Regions from separate parts of the Homo sapiens genome. Here all the other regions are linked to region 1. The links come from fine-mapping of genetic effects on gene expression. A gene starts in region 1. Each other region holds a variant in brackets. All regions are shown on one strand. Distances are from middle to middle. Region 1 holds the start of ALDH9A1 (aldehyde dehydrogenase 9 family member A1). Region 2 overlaps TMCO1 (transmembrane and coiled-coil domains 1). Region 3 has its middle 17 kb from the start of MGST3. Region 4 holds the start of UCK2 (uridine-cytidine kinase 2). Region 5 overlaps MGST3 (microsomal glutathione S-transferase 3). Region 6 overlaps TMCO1 (transmembrane and coiled-coil domains 1).

Region 1 (4,150 bases):
CGGGATTTCATCATGTTGGCCAGGCTGGTCTTACATTCCTGACCTCAAGTGATTCACCCACCTCTGCCTCCCCAAGTGCTGGGATTACAGCCATGAGCCACCACACCCGGCCTAGCAGTTCTTAACTGTATTTTGCGGTCATTGACATTAGGAGTCTGATAAAAGTTGCAGACCTCTCTCCAGAAAAATCTACTTAAACATATAACAGAATTACAGGAATGTCATGTCCCCTGCCCTAAACTCATCAAGGATTTAGAGTTAAGAACCCCTGCCCTCTACTATTTTACAGTTGAGTTTACTAACATTAACTTCTGATTAAGTTTTGCAACACTCCTAAACATTATCTCAGAATCTCAGGGGTCTTGTAAAATGAAAGTCAAAAGTAATCAGTCTATTGGGTTATAAACTCTGACTGTAAATCCCTTGTCTATATTCTATGTAGGTTATATCATACTACTTGATACTTGATAAATATAGTTAATAAGCAGTAATATCAGGATAAGGCAACCCTAAAGGAACATTTTTTTTTTCTCAAAAATTCCCAGATTTCCTTTTCTTATTCCACCTTTATTCCCTCTCCCTATTCTGGTGCAAATTATGAAACAATCAGTTTTTCTAGGCCCATAGCCCAAGGACTGTACTGCCTCTACCAACAAGAATTCTTTAAGTTTGCCAACTCAGCAAATCCTCTTCACAAGAACTCCTGGGACTCTTTCCAGGGAGATTTCACAAATCTGCAATTTCTGTTACAAACTTGAATAGCCAGCTGGTAAAGGCGGTGGCTGAGGATCACACACACTGTAGGCAATTAAAGCAAAGAGCAATTTTTCTTTCTTTTGTATCAGGATTAAGTCGGGGTAGAGAAGCTGTTTCCTCCTATATAAAGAAGAGATGTGATAATGCCTTCTGGCTCTGCCAAGTCACTGCTCTGTGGTTTAGTGTGGATGGTCAAATACTAAATTCTCCAGTCCCCTGCAAATCAGTTTTATTGCTCTGGCTACATTTTACACAAAATATTTACATTTTTCTCCCCACATATATTCCATAAAACCCAGCAAAATAAACACAACACAAAACCAAAACAAAAAGCCCCTTCTTCCTTATCTCTGTGACCTTCAGAGTTCCCAGAGTAAATCCAGTGCCTAGCACAGTGCTTAGCACACATTAAGCACTGGATTAAAAAGTTTTATTTCAGCAAGATGAATAAATTGTGGAGAGCTCACGTAGACCATGGTGACTATGGTTACCAATACTGCATCATATACTTGAAATTTGCTAAAAGAATAGATCTTAAATATTTCACTATCCAAAAAAAGCCATTAACTATGCAGAAGCAATGGATAATTAGATTGACCGTGGTAACCATTTTGCAAGGTATACATACATTACAACACGTTTTACACCTTAAGTATATACAATTTTTATTTGTTAATTATACTTCAATAAAGCTGGGGAAGAAAGTACTGAATAAAGGTGGGGTTTTTTCCTTTCCCAATTCTGATTAATGTGCAGAAATATTTTAATATTAGAATGTGGAGACAAAGTCCTCATTCGTAGTCATTAGAAACTATCTGTGAGCGTTCCTTCATTCCCAGCACAAATGATTATCTTCCCCACAACCCCGCCCCGTTCTTTTAGAATTCCTCTCCTATGCACACATTTGAAGACAATAATACATCAGTCCTGGTTTTAAAAGGGGGAACAGTTGGCTGGGCTTGGTGGCTCACGGCTGTAATCCCAGCACTTTGGGAGGCTGAGGCGGGAGGATCACCTAAGCTCAGGAGTTCGAGACCAGCCTGAGTAACATGCTGAAAACCCGTCTCTACTAAAAATACAAAAATTAGCCGGACATGGTGGTGGGAGCCTGTAATCCCAGCTACCAGGGAGGCTGAGGCGGGAGAAGCACTTGAGCCCGTAAGGTAGAGGGCGCAGTGAGCTCTGAGATGGTGCCCCTGCACTCCAGCCTGGGCGACAGAGTGAGACCCTGTCTCAAAACAAACAAAAAACAAACAAACAAACAAAACAAACAAAAAAGGAAGTTAACAGAGGCACGACTTCCCCCACCAGTACTTTGCGAACTCTGTTCTGGCCCGGGTAAAACAACTCACGATCCTACCACGCAACTCATCAGCTTTGCTTTTCCTCCCTACCCATCCCTGCCCGGAGGCACTCGCGTTGCCCCAGAATCGCTAGTTGCCTACACACACAACCTTAGACTCTCCACTGTCACTGTCTTGTGCTCAAGTCAACGCTGCAGAACACAGGAAACGGGGGCTGGCCGGGAAATCCGCGCATCCGGCCCCAGGGCGCCCCAGCCTCCCCGGCTCGTTGCAGTTACCGGTTGCTGGCTCGAAAGCTTTCTCGGTACCGGAGGCGTCCGCCGGCTCCACGCGGGCCCCGCCGCGGTAATTGAGCGGCTGCGACACGACGAAGGTGCCAGTGCTCATGGCGGCGACAGGAGAGGGCCGAAGACTGCGAAGAAGCGGGGAGAGCGCGGCCAGGCCTGCTCGGAGAAACATGAGTGGCGGACGCAGCTCCGCGGCAGAGGCTGACGGGCCGCGGGAGGGGCGGGGCCGCGGGAGGGGCGGGGCCGCGGGATCGGTTCTAGGAGATTTTAGGGGCAGTCACTCGATTCCTCTGCGGTCCAGGCCAGGCCCTCCCCTCGCCAGGAGGGTGGAGCAAGACACCACATTCTCCCCACCACCCCGCCATACCCCACACAGTCTCCAGGCGGGAAGAGGACTTCCTTCTTCGTGATCAATATTTGCGTAGCACTTTGCAAGTGTTTTCGGGTTCATCATTGCATGTAAGCATCCTAGGATCCCATTCTTAATCCTATCGCCTGAAGAAGGCAGAGGATTGGAGTGCCAAGAGTCTTTGGTGGTTACTTCACTGCTAAACCACCGTTTCTGTAATTGTATAATGCTTTTTAAAGGGTGACAGTAAAAAGCAAGGGGACTGTGAACGAGATAGATGATATTGTGATCTGAAACTGCTTTTTAAATTCTTAAAGAGAGACTGGGCGCTGTGGCTCTCACCAAGGCTGGAGGATCGCTTGAGCCCAGGAGTTTGCGGGCAACAGAGAGAGATCCCGTGTCTATAAAAAAATAAAATAAAAATAATAAAAATTGGGCCGGGCGCGGTGGCTCACGCCTGTAATCCTAGCACTTTGGGAGGCCAAGGCGGGCAGATCACCTGAGGTCAGGAGTTCGAGACCAGCCTGACCAAAATGGTAAAACCCCGTCTCTACTAAAAATACAAAAATTAGCTGGGTGTGGTGGCGGGCGCCTGTAATCCCAGCTACTTGGGAGGCTGAGGTGGGAAAATCGCTTGAACCCGGGAGACGGGTTGCAGTGAGCCGAGACTATGCCATTGCACTCCAGTCTGGGTGACAAGAGTGAAACTCAGAAAAAAAAAAAATTATCCAGGTGTGGTGGCACACGCCTGTGGCCCCAGGTACTTGGGCGGCTAAGGTGGGAGGATCCCCTGAGCCCCGGGGGTCCAAGCTTGCAGTGAGCTATAATCGTGCCACTGCACTCAGGCCTGGGCAACAGAGCGAGACCCTGTCTCAAAATAAATAAATTCTGAAGGAGCAATGTAAATGCTATTAATGACAAATATTGATAGAAACAGAAGCCTAACATACAGAATACGAAGAGCAAAGGCCACAGGAAAAAGTGTCAGGAAACAAAATGCCTTCTGTAAGACAAAGCAGCCACCCAGAGGCACTCACAGGTCTGTCAGCTGAGGGATCTTGCACAAAGGTTCATTCTTCTCACCAAACTTCCATGCACCTCCAGTAGAGACTTTGACAAACAGAAAGTAATTGGCAATTTGGACATTTCTTTTAGGATTGTTTCTCTTCTGGGGGCTGCTGTCTTTCTCAATGTTTTTTCCTTTACCTGCCAGCTCACCAGCGCAATATTAGGGAGTGTGGTTTTCAGGTTTAGAGTATATATAATGTATTCTGATCAAGTTTTCTGGCACTCTATACCAGTTTGTTCACTTTTTCAGTGCTACTGAGATGTGTAGGTCTTGGTCCTCAGATGGAAACAGCAGTGCCCAAACTCAGAATACCTGAGGCCACACTCACATATTATTTTATTATTGTCCATTGCAAACAGAATTGAAACATATCAGGAGTTGGTGA
Region 2 (4,000 bases), 58 kb after region 1:
AGATGGTTAATACATACAATGCTGAGCACAAAGCAGCTGTTAAATAAACTGTCACTGATTGGTGATTACAAAAGCACTCTATCTCAATATCATTTAATAAGATGATGAAAACACCTGGGATAGTATACGTTTTGTACTCAGAAGATTCAAATGCAGCAGAGCACCAAAATATTTCAATTTAAATAAATAAATCTTTAGTGTTTTTTTGAAATTACCTCTGGTATTAAATGTCTTAACTCTGTACATTAATATATATGCTTATGTTACACCAAAGGGAATTGCCAATCAGTTAATTTGTAAGTATAACATAATGATTGTACTTAGATGTCTCAAATTAGTTATCCTTCTCTTAAATTTTCTATTTTTTCAATTTCTCTAAAATGGCATATAGTCTAAAATTATAAGCCAGTTGATAGGATGAACTTAAAATTCAGGTTCTAGCTGGGCAATCCCAGCTCTTTGGGAGGCTGAGGTGAGAAGATCACTTGAGGCCAGGAGTTCAAGACCATCCTGGGCAACATAGCAAGACCCTGTCTCTGCAAAAAATTTACAAATTAGCCAACCGTGATGGTGTGCCCCTGTAGTCCCAGCTACTTGGGAGGCTACAGTGGGAGGATTACTTGAGCCCAGGAGTTTGAGGCTGCAGTGGGCCATGAACGCGTCACTGTGCTCCAGCCTGGGCGATAGGGTGAGACTCTGTCTGAAAACAAAAACAAAAACAAAAACAAAAAACTACGCATTCTCTAAGTAGTGAACCTTTAGAATACAACATCTATGAAATTTGACAAAATTTCATGGAGAGAATAATCTGGAAATATGCAAAAGATACATTTATATTTAGAATGATTTCTTTTCCAAGGTGACTAGCAAAAGGGAAAATTAAAATTCAGAAAAGGAATACTCCAAAAATGGAGGCTACATTTCTTGTGGCTATTGGAATAAACTAGTAGCAATGATGACATCCATTCTGACCACAGAGTCAGTAGACCTTCAGCCAATCCAAATAACATAGAAAAAGGCCTAGAATGAGTGTATAAATTCAGGGCCCCAAATATATTAAATTTCAAAAATTTCCTCTCATATTTAAATCCAAGTCATGAAGAAAAGAGGCCATGTGTGGTAGCCCACACCTGTAATCCCAGCTCTTTGGGAGGCTGAGGTAGGAGGATTGCTTGAGTCCAGGAGTTCAAGGGCAACACAGAGAGACCCCATCTCTACAAAAAACTTAAAATTAGCCAGGCATGGTGGTATATGCCTGTAGTCTGAGCTATTCAAGGAGGCTGAGGCAAGAGGAGTTGGGGTTGTGGTGAGCCATGAACATGCCACTATACTTCAGCCTGGGCTGACAGAGGGTAACCTTGCTTCAAAAACAAAAACAAAAGCAAAACAAAACAAAAAAAGAAAAGAGATACTTATCCCACTCAGACAAGCTTCAGAATGTCTGCTCTCCCTTTCCCATCCACCTTCTGGGGACATCTGCCTGGCACCATACCTTGTTGAAGGGTTAGCCTCATGAAGATTTATAACACCCTCTGTCCTACTACTGCTGACCCAAGAGGCAGCCAAACCATAGGCTCTCCCATGACCTATGACATAAAAAGATCAGCTGGGCCAATTA[G/A]ATTCCTCTCTCAGGAATTTATGCTAGAAAATTTTGGGAAAATAAATCAATTAACTATGGGAACAGAAATAGAAAAGTTATAATATGGTACTGGCTCTGAAACTTTAATTTGCCTAAGAATTATATGGGCAGCTTGTTTAAAAAAAAAAAAAAAGAAAAAAGTAGACTCCTGGGTCCCACATCCAGAGATCCTGATTCAGTAAAGTCTGGGAGTAATACTTAGAACCCTTCATTTTTCACAAGTATCTCAAGCAATATTGATGTAGGTAATCTATGGATCACATTATGAAAATACTGAGATAGAACCCAAGGACACAAGCATCTGGAGCAGATATTCCTAAGGGGTTGGGAGTGGGGAAGGACACAGGGAAGGTTAGGTGAAGACAAAAGCTGAATGCCAAAAAAATTAGTGAAGTCTTACAGTGAAGATCCCTGTCCAGCTTTTTCTCAAGACTTGCTCTGCTTGCAGGACTTGCTTTACCACGGTTCCTGCCTTCCTGTAACCACTTAGTTCAGCTTTGCCTGAGTTTCTCATCACGTATATCCTTCAAATAAACCCCTTATGACTTCTTTATTTGGAATACAACAAAACAAACTATATAAAATTCATATACCAAAAGTAAATTCATTTTTCTTCTTATAAGAGGGAAATGCAAAATAGTCAAAACATTTGCTCCTGAAATTAAGAATTGGGAACATCAAATCTTCAGTTAAAAAGCAAAGGACGCTTCCACTGCAGATTAATGGTTCTCTCAAGGATTGTTATCAAAGAGCTTCACCTAGTGAAATCAATGACATTTTGCTTCTCCGGAACACTGAATATTGCTGGCTGCTTCCCTCTTACTGAAAACTCCCTTCTTTCAGTGCAGTGGCTTTACTCTTTATACTCCCTTTTCCCCAGATACTATATATATATTTACAAATATATACTATATATACAAATATAGTATATATTTGTAAATAAGCTCAAGTGAGGAATCTGGGCTAAGAAAAAGTAAGGGTTAGATAATAATGAAACTATATAGGATCAGTACATAAAAATACATTTAATTGGTCCTATAAAGTTGCTGGAGATGAACACCAAATGAGCAAATCTCATGATTTTCTTGCATGAGAATGAGCAAGTCTCATTCCAGGCTTATCAGCAGCCGATTCAAAGGAAAACAAAAATCAGTTCGAGCACAGTGTCCGTAAGATAAAATAAATCAATTACTTATGAGAACTGCTACTTTTCCTGATATTGAAAACTAATAGAAACAGTTTCCACAATTTCTTATCAAAAGACAATTGTGTAATGTTGTGGATGTTTTTGAATATATTCCATAGTAGTACTATAACAAATTGTATTATACCTGGCTGAATTTTTCATAATAAGCCTAACAATGCAAATGCCAAGGCGAAATACAGTAAAAGCGTTTTATGAAGTCCAAAATAATCCAGTTTAGGTTTACAGATTTCTGATAGTCTGGCTTAATCTAAGATTAAAATGTACAAATCTAGAGAATGGATAGATCATCTTTCAAGCAATTCTTCATAAATATTACATCTCATAATTTCTAATAAGATTTTGATAAGCAACTCTTCATAAATACTACTTCCTTTTTTGCGACAAAGTTTTGCTCTTGTTGCCCAGTCTGGAGTACAATGGCGCGATCTCGGCGCACTACAACCTCCACCTCCCAGATTCAAGTGGATTCTCCTGCCTCAGCCTCCCAAGTAGCTGGGATTATAGGCATGCACCACCACGCCTGGTTAATTTTTGTATTTTTAGTAGAGACGGGGTTTCGCCATGTTGGTCAGGCTAGTCTTGAACTCCTGACCTCAGGTGACCCACCCGTCTTGGTTTCCCAAAGTGCTGGGATTACAAGCGTGAGCCACCATGCCTGGCAATAAATATTATTTCTTATAACTTCTGATGAGTTTTTCTGGGGTGAGCAAACAATTCAAGGTTACACTCCATGTTAAGATCATTTGAATTCAGATACACCGTGTTGCCAATTTAAGGACAGAGGATAATCTGCCTTCCATTTTTATATCCTTCCTATTCTTTATAGCAAAGGTACTTGAAAGAGTTGTCCATGTTGAATGTCTTCATTTTCTCACTGTCTGCATTCTCAATGTCTGCATTCTCTTCTTCATCTATATGATCTGGCTTCTGTCCCCCATCATGCCACTGAAACCATTTTTGCTAGAAGCACTAATAACCTCCATTTCTTAGACATTTACCATCATCATCAGGCCCTTCCTCCTCCCTGACACTCTCCTCTCAACTTCTGTGACACTACTACTTTCCAACTTATCTGGCAATACTTTTTCAGAACTTTACTTCTTCTGTTGTTCCTTAAATTTCTGTTCCTCAAGACTCTTGGCCGGCATAGTGGC
Region 3 (4,150 bases), 83 kb before region 1:
TTCTTGGGGATATAAGACAGCCAGAAATTTACTATACTGGTTCTCCTTCCTCTCTGAAGTAGACCACTTTTCATCTCCTGTCTATAGCCACTAAACACCAGCTTGATTGCACTGTAACTCCTTAAATAAAGAACTAGTTACTTAAATAATCAACTAGTTACTAGGTACACTACTATTTTGAATGAAACTAGAATTTGCCCCAAGATATTGGCCCTAATATATATTGCTTGCCTAACTTTCCATTGCTATGTTTATACAGATCATTTCTTCCCATCAAGAATCCACAAGAATATTATACCTATGTACCCCTGGCCCCAACAACCCATTATCGTGTGTACCAGATGGCCACACATTAATCCATCTCCCACAGTCCCTTGCTAAGGTGTGCTTCCGGTGCTTGCATTCTTTGTGCCTATGTGTGGCTTTGACTTTATGATTAAGGAAAAAAGATGTTTTTGCTTTTTTAAGTCCAAGCAGTGAGCAAAATGTAAAACAGTTCCTATAGAAAAAAATAGACATCAGTAAAACAAAGTGGAGAGTCCAAAATTAAACCAAATGCCTAGAGCATTTTAGTTCATGGTAAAGGCTACATTTTAAACAAAGAGGATAAACATGAATTCATTGACAAATTGTTAAGGGGAAAGGCTAGATTCCTCCTGCATTCTGTCCTTTTGGTGCCTCAAAAACTAAACATATGCCAGGTGTGGGAGCTCAGGCTTTGTAATCCCAGCTCTTTGGGAGGCTAAGGATTGCTTGAGCCCAGGAGCAACATAGCAAGACCCCATCCCTAAAAAAATTGCTTTTAATTAGTCAAGTGTGGTGGTGTGCACCTGTAGTCCCAGCTACTCTGGAGGCTAAGGCAGGAGGATCACTTGAGCCCAGGAATTTGAGGCTGCAGTGAGTGAGCTATAATACCATCACTGCATTCCAGCTTGGGCAACAGAGTGAGACCCTGTGTCTAAAAAGACCCAAAGATTTAAACTTAAATTATCAAAGATTTAACATATATTAAGGAGTTGAACATAAAATAAACCATAAAATTTCAAAAAGAAAGCATGAGTGAAGATGAAAACCTTACCAAGAAGGATATAAAATCTAAAGATCATAAAGTAAAAAACTGGTAAATGTGAATACATAAAATTTTTTAAGTATGAAATAAAAGTAGCCTAAACAAAGTCTAAAAACCAGTGTCAAATTAAAAAAAGATATTTGCAATATATATGATAGCAAAAGCCTAATTTCTTTAATTTATAAAAAGTCTATATAAGTTAATAAGAAAAAATGACAACCCAATATAAAAATGGGCAAAAGATAAGAACTGGCAGTTTTCAAAAAAAGTTACAGTCATGAAAAACAAATAAATAAACTTAGATAAGTACAAATCAAGACAAAAAGTGAAATATCTGTGAGATTAGCAAACATTTTTAAGTTTGATTATAGCCAATGTTGTTGATGACATGAGGAAGCAGGCTTTTGGGAAATAAACTGATGGAATCTTGGGGAAGAATATTTGGCAGCAGCTATCATATTTACAGCCCCTTTGGTCCAGCTTTCCCACTAAAAGAGAGATATACTATGGATAGATTCACAGAAGTTTGCCAAGCAGCCATAAAAAAGAACAAGATTATGTCCTTTGCAGCAACATGGATGGAGCTGAAGGTCATTATCCTAAGTGAACTAATAATGCAGGAATAGAAAATAAAATACCACATGTTCTCACTTGTAAGCAGGAACTAAACAATGGGTACACATGGACAAAAAGATGGAAATAATAGACACTGAGGATTCCAAAAGAGGGAAGGGGGAGCGGGGGAGAGGGTTGAGAAATTTCCTATTGGATACGATGTTCCCTATTTGGGTCATGGGTACACTAGAAGCCCACCAGTATGCAGTATATTCATGTAATAAACATGCACATGTACTCCACGAATCTAAAATAAAATGTTTAAAAAAATTTAAGTTTGCCAAGATAATCTATGAGGTTAGTTTCATTACAGTTTTTGTAATTGCAAAAAAATTTTAAGAAAGACAGAAAAAACTCTAAACTGACCATTAGCAGGAAACTTATAAAATATATATTTTTTATTTCAATAGGTTTTGGGAGAACAGGTGGTGTTTGGTTACCTGAATGTGTACTTCAGTGATGATTTCTGGGATTTTAGTGCACCCATCACCTGAGCAGTGTACACTGTACCCA[A/G]TGTGTAATCTTTTATCCCTCACCCCCCTCCTATGCTTCCCCTCAAGTCCCCAAAGTCCATTGTATTACATTATTCTTATGCGTTTTTGGCCTACTAGCTTAGTTCCTGCTTATAAGTGAGAACATACGATGTTTGGTTTTCCATTTCTGAGTTACTTCACTTAGAATTAACAGTCTGCAACTCCATCCAGGTTGCTGCGAATGCCATTATTTTTTTCCTTTTTATGGCTGAGTAGTATTCCATGGTATATATATACCACATTTTCTTTATTCACTTGTTGATTGATGGGCATTTGGGCTGGTTTCATATTTTTGCAATTGTGAATTGTGCTGCTATAAACATGCATGTTCAAGTGTCTTTTTCATAATATGACTTCTATTCCTCTTGGTAGATACTCAGTAGTGGGATTGCTGGATCAAACAATAGATCTACTTTTAATTCTTTAAAAAAACTCCACACTGTTTTCCATAGTGGTTGTACTAGTTTACATTCCCACCAGTAGCGTAAAAGTGTTGCCTTTTCACTACATCCACACTAACATCTATTTTTTTTTATTTTTTAAATTATGGCCATTCTTGCAGGAGTAAGATAATATCGCATTGTGGCTTTGATTTGCATTTTTCTGATAATTAATGATGGTGAGCATTTTTTCATGTTTTTGGCCATTTGTATATAAAATAAATTTGTATATAACTATTTTGAGAATTATCTATTCATGTCTTTTAGCCCACTTTTGGAAGAAATTTTTTTTTCTTGCTAATTTGTTTGAATTTCTTGTAGATTCTAGATATTAGTCCTCTGTCAGATGAATAAATCGTGAAAATTTTCTCCTACTCTTGGGTTGTCTGTTTACTCTGCTGATTTTTTTTTTCTATGCAGAAGCTTTTTCGTTTAATTAAGTTCCATCTATTTATCTTTGTTTTAGTTGCATTGCTTTTGGGTTCTTGGTCATGAAGTCTTTGCCTAAGCCAATGTCTAGAAGGGTTTTTCAGATGTTATCTCCTAGAATCTTTATGGTTTCAGGTCTTAGATTTTAAGTCTTTGATCCATCTTGAGTTGGTTTTTATATAAGGTTAGAGGTGAGGATCCAGGCTAAAGCACAAGAATCACTTGAACCCGGGAGTCAGAGGTTGCAGTGAGCCAAGATTGTGCCACTGCACTCCAGCCTGGGGGACAGAGTGATACTCTGTCTAAAAAAAAAAAAAGGTGAAAAGATATATCTCTTAAATTAGAATATAAATAAAGCACAGCCATACTTGACTTAGAAAAATAATAGAGCACAGGCAGTCATTGTTCTCTTTTAATTTACAACTTTTAACCTGAAGTGCTTAAACAGGGAGGTCCTAGAGAGCTTTTTATCTGAAAAGCTGTGTGAAGTGTTTGGCCCTGCCATACCATTCCCTTGCCCTCCATGTCTTTTGCTCAGGGACCAGGGAATTTGACAGGAGAATGTCAGTGAATGGGCAGAGTCAGAGCTGAGGCGAGCAGATCTTTGCTGAGGAGACATTGGACATAAGGTGTGCTCATAACACTACCTGAGCAAACAGCTCAGCTGTTGCAAAACAGCTCAGCATCAGAGGAGGCAGAAGTGATGCTAAGACTCCACTCATTCACAAAGGAGAAGCCAAATCAAACAGCTTGGCAAATCACAGCAGCTTGCTCAGATACTTGTTCTTTCCTTTATTAAACAAATATTTATTTGACACTTATCAGATGTTAAATTTGCCATAGGCCCTGGGAAAATAAAGGTGAAGTTTTTTTCCTGGAGGGATATTACTTTATAATGGAGGAGTGACACAGTAAGTGAATACATTATAACAAAAGATTAGATAGTAAGTGGTCTGAAGAGAAATAAAGCAAGGGAAGGAGATAGTGACCAATTGCTTGCCTATTTTAGAAGGACTGATCAGGAAAGGCCTTTCTGAGATGGTGGCATTTGGGCAGAGACTTGC
Region 4 (4,150 bases), 130 kb after region 1:
CTAGGGCGCGTCGGAGAAAGGGTTAACCGGGCGGGTGGGAGGGAAGGTCGGGCTCACACCTTTCGCAGAGACCTCGGGCGGCGGCGGGGCCCGGGAGGGGCGGAGGCTGGGGCCAGACGCCTCGCCGCCTCCGCCTCGGCGAATAGCAGCGCGCTGCCCGCCCGGATTGGAGCAGCAGCATCACGCTGACCTCTGCCTGGGATGTAAACCGGACCAGCCGCTGCGGGCAAAGGAAGGCTCTTGGCTCCTTCGGGAAACCCAGCCCCGTCACCGGGCTCCGAGCGGCTCGCAGGCGAGCGACAGCGGCCTCAGCCCCGGCAGCGCCCAGCGGCGGCTGCGGAAAGCGGAGGGAGTCCGACGCGGGCGCGGGCGGGGAGCGTGCGTCCGTTCGCACAGGCAGCGGGAGGAGGGGCGGCGCGAACCATGGCCGGGGACAGCGAGCAGACCCTGCAGAACCACCAGCAGCCCAACGGCGGCGAGCCCTTCCTTATAGGCGTCAGCGGGGGAACAGCTAGCGGCAAGGTACGGCGGGGCCCGGAGCCGCGCTCCCTTCCCGGCTTCTGTCCCTGGGCGGCGCATGTGGCCGGCGGCCGCGGGCCGTGTCAGTTGCGGCAGCCACCGCGTGGCCCGCGCGCCTCCGCTCCCGGCCGCGCTCCAGCGCCGAGTGCGCCCCGCGCGGCCTGGGGGCGCTGCGGCGGGGGCAGGCGAAGACTCGGGCCTTGGGGGTTCCGGGGGTACGCGGCCACGATCGCAGGGCGGGAGTGCTCCTCCGGCTTTTCTCCCCCCGCGTTAATAACTCGTGGCCGGGGTCCTATGGGGGAAGGGCAGGGAAGCGGATGCTTATTGTTTTGCAACTCCAGTGTCGGGGGAGAGGGCTTTCCGCAGGATCCCCCACTAACCCCCGATGGACTCCCTCAAGCCCCGGTCTGGCACAGACGTGCTCGCCCCGCGGCGCAGCCTGGTGCCGAGGGCGGAGCGAGCCGGGAAGCGCGGCCGAGAGGGCGAGGGTGGCGGGAACGCGCGAGGCGGCATCCCGGGGAAGGGGAGCCCAGTGTGGGGCTGCACGCAAGGGCTGGGGATTACAGGGGTTTCCGGGTAAAAGTCTGAGAGCCAAATAGGTGCCGTGACATCAATGAAACGATAATAGTAGGGGCTTCTGTTTTTTAAGGTTATAAGAGGAAACGTGGTCGGCTTCAATGAGAAAGTTGTACTGGCTCCAAGCTCTTCGGTGTCCAGGACGTACGCGTCTTGGATCCACGGAAGGGGGTCATCGTATGGGTGTCTGACCCTCTTAGGAGCCTGTTTCCTTTGTTTTATCCGCAAGGCAAGGAGAGACAAGGGAAATGACTTCCTAGCTTTACCCGGGGTTTTTTCTGCAGGTGGAGAAGGGTGGAGTCCTCCCAGATGGTTCTTTCTTTGCTCCCCTAACAGCCTTTAAGATGTGGCTACTTGTTTTTCCCACCGTTTAACACCCTCCAACTTCATTTGGAGCACGGGTTCCTCAAGGGATCCTGAGAGCTGGGTGCTGGGTGCTGGTTTGGAGAGGCAGGATGATGCTTCTCCCGGCTGGGGAGAGCAGAGCAGGAAGGCTGGTTGGCGCCATGAGGAAAGAGCCACGAGGTTTTAGCTCCCGAACCGACTCGTCAGTAGCCCCTCCTCCATGTTGGTTTTACATTTTTCCCTCCTGGTCTGGACTACTTTAGCGCAAGGAGCCCAGCCAGACACGGCGGCTGGCGCTGCTGGACTTCTTTA[T/C]TGATGAAGTTGATCTCGTCCGTAGCTCCCGGGGTTAGGAATCGGCCTGCTTTAGGTCCTGAAGTTTCTGTTCTGTGTGCTCCCTGGTTGAAGGCTTTTAAAAAAATTTGTAATTTTTGAGTATGTTCTTTACTATGACTTATACTAGTAATTCAAAGCAAAACCAGAATGCTAGCCCTTCAGGAAGCTTTACCTGTTCTTTTAGAATTATTCTTGCTCTTCTGGCATATTCCTGTTGGATTGGGAGCATTTTTTGTTGTTGTTGTTCATGGCTGTTTTCCCAGCCCTCCTAGCACAATGCCTGCCTGGCATGTAGTGGGGTCCAAATTTTAAGCTGAAGTCCAGTCCTCCTAAAGTGGGGAGGAGGCTTAAACTTGCATATGAGCTTTTAGAAACAAAATGATCTTGGTAATCATCTGAATAATTTAGTTACCACGAGGGTGAAAACTGCGACCCTAAAAGGTGAATAACTCTGTTATTGTTCTTCTTGTGTGTTTCTCAGTCGTCACCTGTTCTAACTTGATAATCAAGCTTTTGGTGTTACTTGGGTAAAGTGAGGGATGGGATAGTGGTGAGCCAATGTGGGAGTAGCTAATTCTCTGCTATTTTTATCCAGGAGGAAGAGTGTAGAAACTCTCAAGAAAGGAAGGGTCCGTTTTTCTGCAGTTTTCAAAGCATGTTGTACATTTTTATTTATTAATTTAATTTTTGAGACAAGGTCTCGCATTTCCACCTAGCCCAGAGTAAGTGGCACTGTCACAGCTCACTGCAGCCTCAGCCTCAACCTGGAGTAACTGGGAGTACAGGCTGGCACTATCATGACTGGCTAATTTTTTTGTTTGTTTGATTTGTTTTGTTTTTGAGACAGGGTCTCACTCTTTTGCCCAGGCTGGAGTGCCGTGGTGAGATCTTGGCTTACTGTACCCTCCACCTGTTGGGCTCAAGTGATCCTCCCACTTCAGCCTCCAGAGTAGCTGAGACTACAGGCTTGCACCATCATGCCCGACTAATTTTTTTTTTTTTGTAGAGAAGGGGTTTTGCCATGTTGCCAGGCTGATCTCAAATGCCTAGACTTAAGTGATCCGCCCGCCTCTGCCTCCCAAAGTGCTGGGATTACAGGTGTGAGCCACTACCTGGGCTGGCTTTTTAATCTTTATTTTTTTTATTATTTTTTTTTTTTGAGACAGAGTCTTGCTCTGTTGCCCAGGCTGGAGTGCAGTGGCATGATCTCGGCTCACTGCAAGCTCCGCCTCCCGGGTTCATGCCATTCTTCTGCCTCAGCCTCCCAAGTAGCTGGGACTACAGGTGCCCGCCACCACGCCTGGCCAATGTTTTTGTATTTTCAGTAAACACGGAGTTTCACTGTGTTAGCCAGGATGGTCTCAATCTCCTGACCTTGTGATCCGCCCGCCTCGGCCTCCCAAAGTGCTGGGATTACAGGTGTGCGCCACCACGCCGGCAATCTTTATTTTTTGTAGAGACTAGGTCACCATGTTGCCCAAGCTTGTTTGTACATTTTTGACATACGAATGATTGATAGTTTGTCATCCTTTAAGATTATTGATATTTTTGTTATTAAAAAAGTCCAAGACTGGGCCTGGTGGCTCACACCTGTAATCCTAGCATTTTGGGAGGCAGAGACAGGAGGATTGCTTGAGCCCGGGAGTTTGAGGCCAGCCTGGGCAACATAGTGAGACCCCATCTGTATAAAATGAAAATTGTGGTGGGTCGAGAAAGTTATTTTGACCTATGTTTAAAACCAGATTCTCAGCTTGGGCAACATGGTGAGACTTGTTCTCTACAAATAATAAAATTATCCAGGTGCAGTGCTGCAGGTCTAGAGGCTGAGGTGGGAGGAATGCTTGAGTATGGGAGGTCGAGGCTGCAGTGAGCTGTGATTGTGCCACTACACTCCAGCCTGGGTGACAGAGCAAGACCTGTCTCGAACAAAAACCAAAAAAGGTTATGGCTGAGTACGGTGGCTCACACCTCTAGTCCCAGCACTTTGGGAGGCCAAGGAAGGAGGATGCCTTCAAAACCAGCCTGGGCAACAGAGAGAGACCCCGTCTCTACGAAAAATTAAAAATTAGCCATGTATGTGCCACCAGCTTCTCAGGAGGCTGAGGCAGGAGGATGGCTTGAGCCTAGGACTTGGAGGCTGCAGTGAGCTTTGATGGTGCCACTGTACTCCAGACTGGGCAACGTAGCAAGACCCCATCTCAAAAGCAAACCAAACCAGATTTTCATATTTCCCCCTAAAGGACAGGTGTAATAACACTAAAAGGTGGAAAAAAACCCAGGCTAAACTTCTTTGCCTGCATACATATCTGTGACTTTTAGGTGTCATTCTGTTTCCTTTTCATCTTTGCCTGTTCCTTGTTCTGTAACCTCTTCATTG
Region 5 (4,083 bases), 48 kb before region 1:
GAAGACGGTAGAAGGGGAAAACTGATGAGAATTATTGTGAATCATGGTGGGGAGGAGGGGTTTTAAGAAGTTAGGCCTGTTAGGCTGGGTGCGGTGGCTCACACCTGTAATCCCAGCACTTTGGGAGGCCGAGGTGGGTGGATCATCTGAGCTCAGGAGTTCAAGAATAGCCTGGCCAACATGGCAAAACCTCGTTTCTACTAAAAATACAAAAATTAGCTGGGTGTGGTGGTGCGCATCTGTAATCCCAGCTACTTGGGAGGCTGAGGCAGGAGAATCACTTGAACCCGGGAGATGGAGGTTGCAGTGAGCCGAGATCGTGCCACTGCACTCCAGCCCGGGCGACAAGAGTGAAACTCCATCTCAAAAAAAAAAAAGCAGTTAGGCCTATTTTGCTGTGCTAAGAGAAACTTACTTTTAATGAACTGAGCTGCATGCCTATCCCAAATTCTGTTTTAAGGAAGATGCTCTGACCACAGTGTCAGTTTGGCTCTAAAGTTTCAAGGGATACTGAAAGGGAATATTGGAACCAAATGAATCTGAATGGGAATCCCAGGTCTGTCACTGTCTGTTTTAGACCTTGGAAACATTACTTAACCTCTTTTGAAAATAAGGATTTACCATCTTGTTGGTTGGTTTGTTAGGATGATTAGATACATTCCAGATCAGGGTAACTCTCCTAGGTTAAAAGCAGGGACTGAAGCCAGGCAATTACCAGGGATGGAAATTTTAAAGCTGACGGCAGAACACACACCAGAGCTGCTGGCTCGTGGAAGCCTTTGAAGTGATGATTTGATGGGCAATCTGAGTTCCTCAGGAGCTGCCCAAAGCCTCATAGGCTCAGGAGCCATGCTCTGCTTTCAGAGTACTCAACCTGGGCCTTCCCCTACCTGTGTGAGATGTCTGCTGCTGCACCCGCACGTGCCCCAGGATCGAAGGGAGGCCTCAGAGTCCTGCCCTCACAGTGTCCCCCATGTCTGAAGGCAAAAAACTTGGAATCACTGTGCATATACTATTTTGGATGCTCGCTTTCTTGCTTTCTCACTTTCTTGCTTTCTCTCTCTCTCTCTCTCCCTCTCCTCCCTCCCCACTCCCTCTCTCTCCCTCTCCATCCCTCTCCCCACCATGTCCTGCTCCTCTCACTCCCTCCCTCCCCCTCCCTATGTAATGTATACTTTAGCATTTTACCATGTTAAATATTTTTTCAATAATGTGATTTTTGTTGGCTATATTATTCTACAGCAACGACTACTGCAGTGGTGTAGATAAATCTCATAATGTTGATCAGAATCTCCCAGGCACAAAAGAGAAAAAAAGATACATGACTGTATACTTTTCTGTGTATAGACTGCATAGTTGAGTAATTTTTAAATTATTTTATATGGTACTGTCTTTGATGACTTCTCAGAAACATCAGATTGATTCATACCTTTTTTTGGTCTCTATTTACTCATTTGCCAGTAATAAAGCATCTTGCTCCCTAAGGCTTCACACCATGAAATAGCCACAGTGCTGGGGGCCGTCCCAACGTGTTCTTTCTTCCACAGACGCAAGATGGCTGTCCTCTCTAAGGAATATGGTTTTGTGCTTCTAACTGGTGCTGCCAGCTTTATAATGGTGGCCCACCTAGCCATCAATGTTTCCAAGGCCCGCAAGAAGTACAAAGTGGAGGTAAGTGGGAACACAAGCTGGTGCCCTTGTAGGCTTGTCTGGGGGCCACAGGCTTAGCCAAGAACTTATTTTCAGCCATGGAGGGAGAGGCAAGGAGCTAGTTGTGAGAAGTGGCAGTTTCAGGACTGTGTTAGCGATTCTGCTTCTTCATGGTAGGAAAGAGGCAAGAAATACAGGGCCCTGCTAGGGAGTAGTTTCCATCTTGTTTGACTTTGTCTCTTCGGTAGAAAGACCAGGAATGCTGGGATTCCAATAGTACACTTCTGCTTGGAGCTATTTGCTAGGAAGAGAGTTACTGTATTTTCCACAGAGGGTTAAATAGCAATATTGTTTCATGGTGTGCCACTTTAAAAATGATGTCTTATGGTGATTTTCCTGTTTTCCAAGTAGAAAAGAGGTATGTGGTGTTGAGATTAGCCTGGACTTAGACATAGGAAGGTGGTCTATTAAACACTTCCTTTAGTTTTAGGTGATCTAGAAGGGATAATTACCAAAGTTGTCCCTGGTGAG[T/C]GGTTTTAAATGTCTGTTTCTGTTTAGCAACTTAATAATTAAACTCCCTTACTAGAGCTTCTTTTAAGTTTTTATATTTAGTTTCTTCTTTTTTTTCCCTTCCAGTGGACACTTCCATTAAGATTCTCACACACTCAATTTCTGTTCTTCTATTAAGGGAAATCTTAAAAGGATGTGGTATTTGATGACTCTTAGGAAGGCTCTATTTCCCTACAGTATCTTTGTAATGCATCTGAAATCCACCATTGATGCTTAACGTCAATGAAAAGCACGGAGTTTGGCGCAAAGCTGCCTCTTTCCCTTGTGCAACTACAGCGCAGACATACATTCTTATTCCTGGATATTTAATAGAAACATTGACTCTGCTTCTGAGAATTGAGACCCTTGTCACCATAAATATTTAAGCAGAAATTGAATGGTCATCTATCAAGGGTGTGAAAGAAGATACTTTGGAATATATTGTTTTTAAGGTTCATTTTAACTTTCAACACTGAATGCTCCTCTTGACCATCTGATCAGTATGTGCTTTGTTGTGACAGTATCCTATCATGTACAGCACGGACCCTGAAAATGGGCACATCTTCAACTGCATTCAGCGAGCCCACCAGAACACGTGAGTGTCGGCCCTGCCGGGCACCAAAGACATCTGCAGAGTGGGTGTTTTCTGTCTAACACCTCAGCCCTTAGTGCGCTGTATTTGCTGAGTCATAGTGATGGTGACAATCATGGGCACCTCATTAAAAGTATTCAAAAATTATGTATGTGAACACATTGACTATTAAGCAAACTTAAGAGTGGTTGGAATGGTGGGATTTCGGGATATTCTTTTCAAAAAATGTCTTCATGGTTGCATTACCTACTACAGTTTTGCAGCATGACCCATCTAAACCGATGTTGACTCTCCCAGGCCTAGGGAGTGAAGAGGTTTTGAATGCTGTAAGGAAACCCACTCTGACTCACCAGGACCTTCCACTTCCATTTGTTAGATGTGAGGTCCTTTTACTCAGCATGTTCCAAGTGACCTCTAATCCCATGCAGAGCAAAGGAGGGTGGATGATAGTGACCAGGTCTTCTCCCTGCGGTGAATGTTTATTTTTACCCCCAAGCTTCTAACTTGGCAAGGAAGATGTAAAGATTCATAGTGCTGGCTGGGTGAGGTGGGCTCACACCTGTAATCCCAGCACTTTGGGAGGCCGAGGTGGGTGGATCACTTGAGGTCAGGAGTTGGAGACAAGCTTGGTCAACATGGCAAAACCCCATCTCTACAAAACTTAGCCAGGCATGGTGGCACGCACCTGTAATCCCAGCTACTCAGGAAGCTGAGGCATGAGAATTACTTGAACCCGGGAGGCGGAGGTTGCAGTGAGCTGAGATCATGCCACTGCATTCCAGCCTGGGTGACAGAGACACTCCGTCTCAAAAAAAAAAAAAAAAAAATTCATAATTCTACACAGGCATACTTAAAAAGGGCACTTTTTAAAAGTTTCTTTCTGTCAATTCCAGGTTGGAAGTGTATCCTCCCTTCTTATTTTTTCTAGCTGTTGGAGGTGTTTACCACCCGGTAAGTTTTCCAGGAGGTGTTCATCTATTTGGATAGTAGTTCACTGAGCTATTATCAGGGACAGAAGAAGGAAATAAACATTTAATGAATATCTTCAGTGTCTAGGCACTGCATATTTAAAAGGATTTTATTCAATTATTTCTTACAGAGTTCTTTAAAGGAGATGGGATTTTCCTCATATTTTACAGATAAGGAAAAGCCTCTCATATACTATTTAAACTTCACAAGGTCAAATAGCTACAGAGTAGAAGGATTAGAATTTGAACTCAGGTCTGTCTGGTTCTAAGTTTCATGTCTATAAGAGTTCATTTGTTATAGTAATTCATTCACACAACAAACTT
Region 6 (4,000 bases), 65 kb after region 1:
ATAAAAGAAAAATGTCAAATTTCACATTTTAAAATGTTATAAAAATAACATTTTATGTCGGGTGCAGTGGCTCAGTTCTGTAAGCCCAGCACTCTGAGAGGCCAAGATGGGAAGATCATTTCAGTTCAGGAGTTCGAGATCAGCATGGGCAACACGGTGAAACCTCGTCTCTACCAAAACTACAAAAATCAGCCGGCCATGGTGGTGCACTCCTGTGGTCCCAGCTACTCAGGAGGCTGAGATGAGAGGATCATGGAAGCCCAGGAAGTCAAGACTGCAGTGAGCCATGATTGGGCCACTGCACTCCAACCTGGGTGACAGAGTGAAACCCTGTCTCAAAAAAATAAATAAATAAATAATAAACATTTTTATTAAAATGTTATAAGGATAACATTTTTATTAAAATGTTATAAGGATAACATTTTTATTAAAATGTTATAAGGATAACATTTTTATTAAAATGTTATAAGGATAACATTTTTATTAAAATGTTATAAGGATAACATTTTTATTAAAATGTTATAAGGATAACATTTTTATTAAAATGTTATAAGGATAACATTTTTATTAAAATGTTATAAGGATAACATTTTTATTAAAATGTTATAAGGATAACATTTTTATTAAAATGTTATAAGGATAACATTTTTATTAAAATGTTATAAGGATAACATTTTAAAAGACAAAATGGACAGAAAACACTTAATGTTTTGTTCTTTATCATTGTTATTAAACAAAGAAACAAAAATATTTCTTTCCCACCCCAGAAGGACTATAACACAACTACTTGGCATTTAACCATGACTGCATAGAAAACAGGGCAATAAAAAGACAGAAGGCTAGAGAATAGAAACATAAGACAATTCCATAAACATTAGTCTGGTCTTCTAGAAGACCAGATTGAGACTAGATAAATTGTTTTTAGGGATAAATTAATCTAATGTTTTTCAAACTTCATGAGGTTGTGATGAAACCTTGGTGTGTGGATATTTATTCATCAGAATCTCACCTGACAACAAGAAGTAGAAATGTCAGAGTTGACAAAAATAAAAGATGTCTACTATGAAACACATTTCTGTCCATGATCTGTATTCCTGCATTCTAAATTCCAGAGTTCTGCCAAACAGTTTATAAATTATTCTAAAAGATTTATCCTATTTTACCGTAAACAACAGAAATACCTCATACTTCACAGCAATTTATACTTAGTAAGTGCTCTCAAATAAACAACTGTGTTACAAGAATCAAGTTATATATACTGTATTTTAATCTTTTTCATTTATTGAAGTATCCTTTCATTAGTATATATTATAATAGTAACACAATAAAAGAAGACCTACTGATATTTAGAATACATCTATAAGCCCAGTGACCACCTGAGTCAACCAACTCACTACCTTTAAGAAAGCATTTCCTTTTGTTAAAAGCAGCTCAGTAGGACTGCTTTTTGGACAACAGTATTCTTCTAAAAATGCCAAGGACCAGATCAGCACAAGCAAAGTAACCTGTAT[C/G]AAATTCTGATTCAAACCTCTTTATATTTTTGATATTCTTCAAAAACCCTACAAACTTCCCTTGCTTAAATTCATACTACGTTCTGAATACAAAGTATCAGAAGGAATTCTGTATTTGCAATTAAGACATTTGTTCAAAGAGGAAATTTACCTTATATTTTTCCTTTTTAATATTCCTCATGCTAAATATAATAGTTGTGCATTTGATTATACATTCCAGAAGACAGAATTTGTGGCCGCTCATTTCATATTGTACTTACTACAGTAAACTAAACACATAGCAAGCAATCAAATAAGTCGACTGATCACATAAATAAAAATAATACACGTTTACTGAGTTTTGGTAGATTATCCAGAGTAGAGGACCTAAGACCACAAGAAATGCCATGAGTCATTCCAATCATCAACCTACCTCATACTTACCTTCAAAGGAAGCATATGAAGAAATTATAGTAAAATTGCAACTACAGATGTGTAAACTGGCAAATGTATTACTTTGTTTCATTTTTGTTAGAGATTGGGTCTCAACTCTGTCACCTAGGCTGGAATGCAGTGGCCCAATCTCCCCTCTCTGCTCACTGCAAACCCCGCCTCCTGAGCTCAAGCAATCCTCCCACCTCAGCCTCCCAAGTAGTTGGGACCACACACACATGCCACCATGTCAGGCTAATTTTTTGTACATTTTGTAGAGATGGGGTTTTGCCATGTTGCCCAGGCTGGTCTTGAACTCCTGAGCTCAAACAATCTACCTGCCTCAGCCTCCCAAAGTGTTGGGATTACAGGCGTAAGCCACTGCACCTGGCCTCAACTGTATTACTTTGAATTGCAGTGTACAGTAAAGGAGACTTTTCATTTATTTCTATAAAGTAAATAATTAAAGACAAGGCAATATTGTAGATACCAGTGAAGCTCAAAATCTATAAGGCAAATCCATATTATATAAATATTTAAGGTATAAGAATATTCAAACCAATTTGAAGCTAAATTTGTTTTGTATTTCATAAAACTACTCAATGATATAAATGACATGAAGAAATGTATACAGGGATGCCATTGCATGCTGCCAACTAGCATAGGATCATAGCAGAACAATTTTTCACAAAGAATATATGTGATGTTATGCTACACAGATAATTTATTAAATACACATTTATCAAGTATCTAATATGTGCCAGGCACTGCATTAGGTACTGTGGATACAATGGCCTTTGTCCTCATAGCAATTACAGTTTTGTTGAGGAGAGAGACATTACCCTGATGACCATAATCATATATAGGTAAAACTGCAGTTGTGACAACCACTCTAAGGAGAGGTATGTGGATAAATCATAAACTATGATAGGAAGATTTGGCCCTGTCTGGGAGACTGGATAAGGCTTTGAGATCTGAAGAATGAGTAGGAGTTTACTAAACAAAATGAGAAGGGAAACTTATCGCAGGTAGGAGGAACAACAGATACAAAGTGCCTGTAGTAGGAAACCATAAGACTAGCCCAGAGGACAGAAAAAAGGCATGAATGAATAGAGAATAGGGAGCAAGAGAGAATATGATACAAGATGTAGCCAGGAGAAGGGAGGGTGGTACTGTGCTGTGCTGGACCTTACAGGCCACATGTTTATCCTAAAGCAATGTGAAGAAATTGAAAGGTTTTAAGAAAGACAAGTAACATAATCAGATTTGTGTTTTAAAAAATTACCCTAGATGCATTATAGGGGGCAAATTTGAGTGGCTGCAGATGGACCAGAGAGGAGGTTACTGCAGCAGATTAAATGAAATATAATAGAAGTTTAGACTAGGTGGTGATGGGAGAAATGAAGAGATGTGAAATGATCTGAAAACTATTCAGGAAAACAACAATAGGGCTTGGTAATGGACTGCATATATGGGGCAAAAGAAGAAAGCATTCAAGTCAACAAATGTTTGTTAAACATTTACTATGTGCCAGTCAGTGTTCTAGGTAAACAGGATACATAGGTAAACAACAACAAAGAACCGTGCCCTAGTGGAGTTTTCATTCTAGCAGGTAGAAATACACAATAAGCAATAACATGATAAATAAGTAAATCATACAGTATATTAGAAAGTAATAAAAGCAACAGAAAAAATAGAACAGGGTAAGGAATATTAGGAGTAGGGGAGATGGGCAGGTTGCAGTTTTATTTTATTTTTATTTTTTTTGAGACAAGAGTCTTGCACTGTTGGCCAAGCTGGAGTGCAGTGATGCAATCTCGGCTCACTGCAACTTCCGCCTCCCAGGTTGAAGCAATTCTCCTGCCTCAGCCTCCCAGGTAGCTGGGATTACAGGCATGTGCCACCACGCCCAGCTAATTTTTGTATTTTTAGTGGAGACGGGGTTTCACTATGTTGGTCAGGCTGGTCTCGAAGGCCTGACCTCGTGATCCACCCACCTCAGCCTCCCAAAGTGCTGGGATTACAGGCCTGAGCCACCGCGCCCTGCCTTGCAGTTTTAAATAGAGTGGTCAACTTAA

Evidence for each region.
Region 2: its variant is fine-mapped to the expression of ALDH9A1 in whole blood (TOPMed, PIP above 0.99).
Region 3: its variant is fine-mapped to the expression of ALDH9A1 in whole blood (INTERVAL, PIP above 0.99). The same link has a PIP of 0.9 or more in prostate.
Region 4: its variant is fine-mapped to the expression of ALDH9A1 in whole blood (TOPMed, PIP above 0.99).
Region 5: its variant is fine-mapped to the expression of ALDH9A1 in whole blood (INTERVAL, PIP above 0.99).
Region 6: its variant is fine-mapped to the expression of ALDH9A1 in whole blood (INTERVAL, PIP above 0.99).

What each region holds. Positions count from the first base shown.
Region 1 is chr1:165,696,040-165,700,189 of GRCh38, forward strand. It overlaps ALDH9A1 (aldehyde dehydrogenase 9 family member A1), which reads right to left and starts at 2,523. Exons shown (of 11, transcript NM_000696.4): 1 at 2,339-2,523. The coding sequence starts at 2,519. It also overlaps the pseudogene CA14P1. RefSeq lists enhancers at 2,259-2,488, 2,332-2,914, 2,779-2,958 and a silencer at 2,519-2,708.
Region 2 is chr1:165,754,291-165,758,290 of GRCh38, forward strand. The region is part of intron 3 of TMCO1 (transmembrane and coiled-coil domains 1); the gene reads right to left. Among named protein-coding and RNA genes, the nearest start is that of TMCO1, 13 kb to the right of the region's middle. The variant G/A (reference allele first, on the strand shown) is at 1,619.
Region 3 is chr1:165,612,656-165,616,805 of GRCh38, forward strand. No RefSeq gene overlaps it. Among named protein-coding and RNA genes, the nearest start is that of MGST3, 17 kb to the right of the region's middle. The variant A/G (reference allele first, on the strand shown) is at 2,198.
Region 4 is chr1:165,827,411-165,831,560 of GRCh38, forward strand. It overlaps UCK2 (uridine-cytidine kinase 2), which reads left to right and starts at 204. Exons shown (of 7, transcript NM_012474.5): 1 at 204-522. The coding sequence starts at 424. RefSeq lists silencers at 1-242, 323-802, 863-1,092 and an enhancer at 558-1,111. The variant T/C (reference allele first, on the strand shown) is at 1,753.
Region 5 is chr1:165,648,294-165,652,376 of GRCh38, forward strand. MGST3 (microsomal glutathione S-transferase 3) reads left to right here. Exons shown (of 6, transcript NM_004528.4): 2 at 1,548-1,671; 3 at 2,721-2,794; 4 at 3,685-3,742. The coding sequence starts at 1,555. Among named protein-coding and RNA genes, the nearest start is that of MGST3, 19 kb to the left of the region's middle. RefSeq lists an enhancer at 2,121-3,320. The variant T/C (reference allele first, on the strand shown) is at 2,182.
Region 6 is chr1:165,761,612-165,765,611 of GRCh38, forward strand. The region is part of intron 2 of TMCO1 (transmembrane and coiled-coil domains 1); the gene reads right to left. Among named protein-coding and RNA genes, the nearest start is that of TMCO1, 5.3 kb to the right of the region's middle. The variant C/G (reference allele first, on the strand shown) is at 1,512.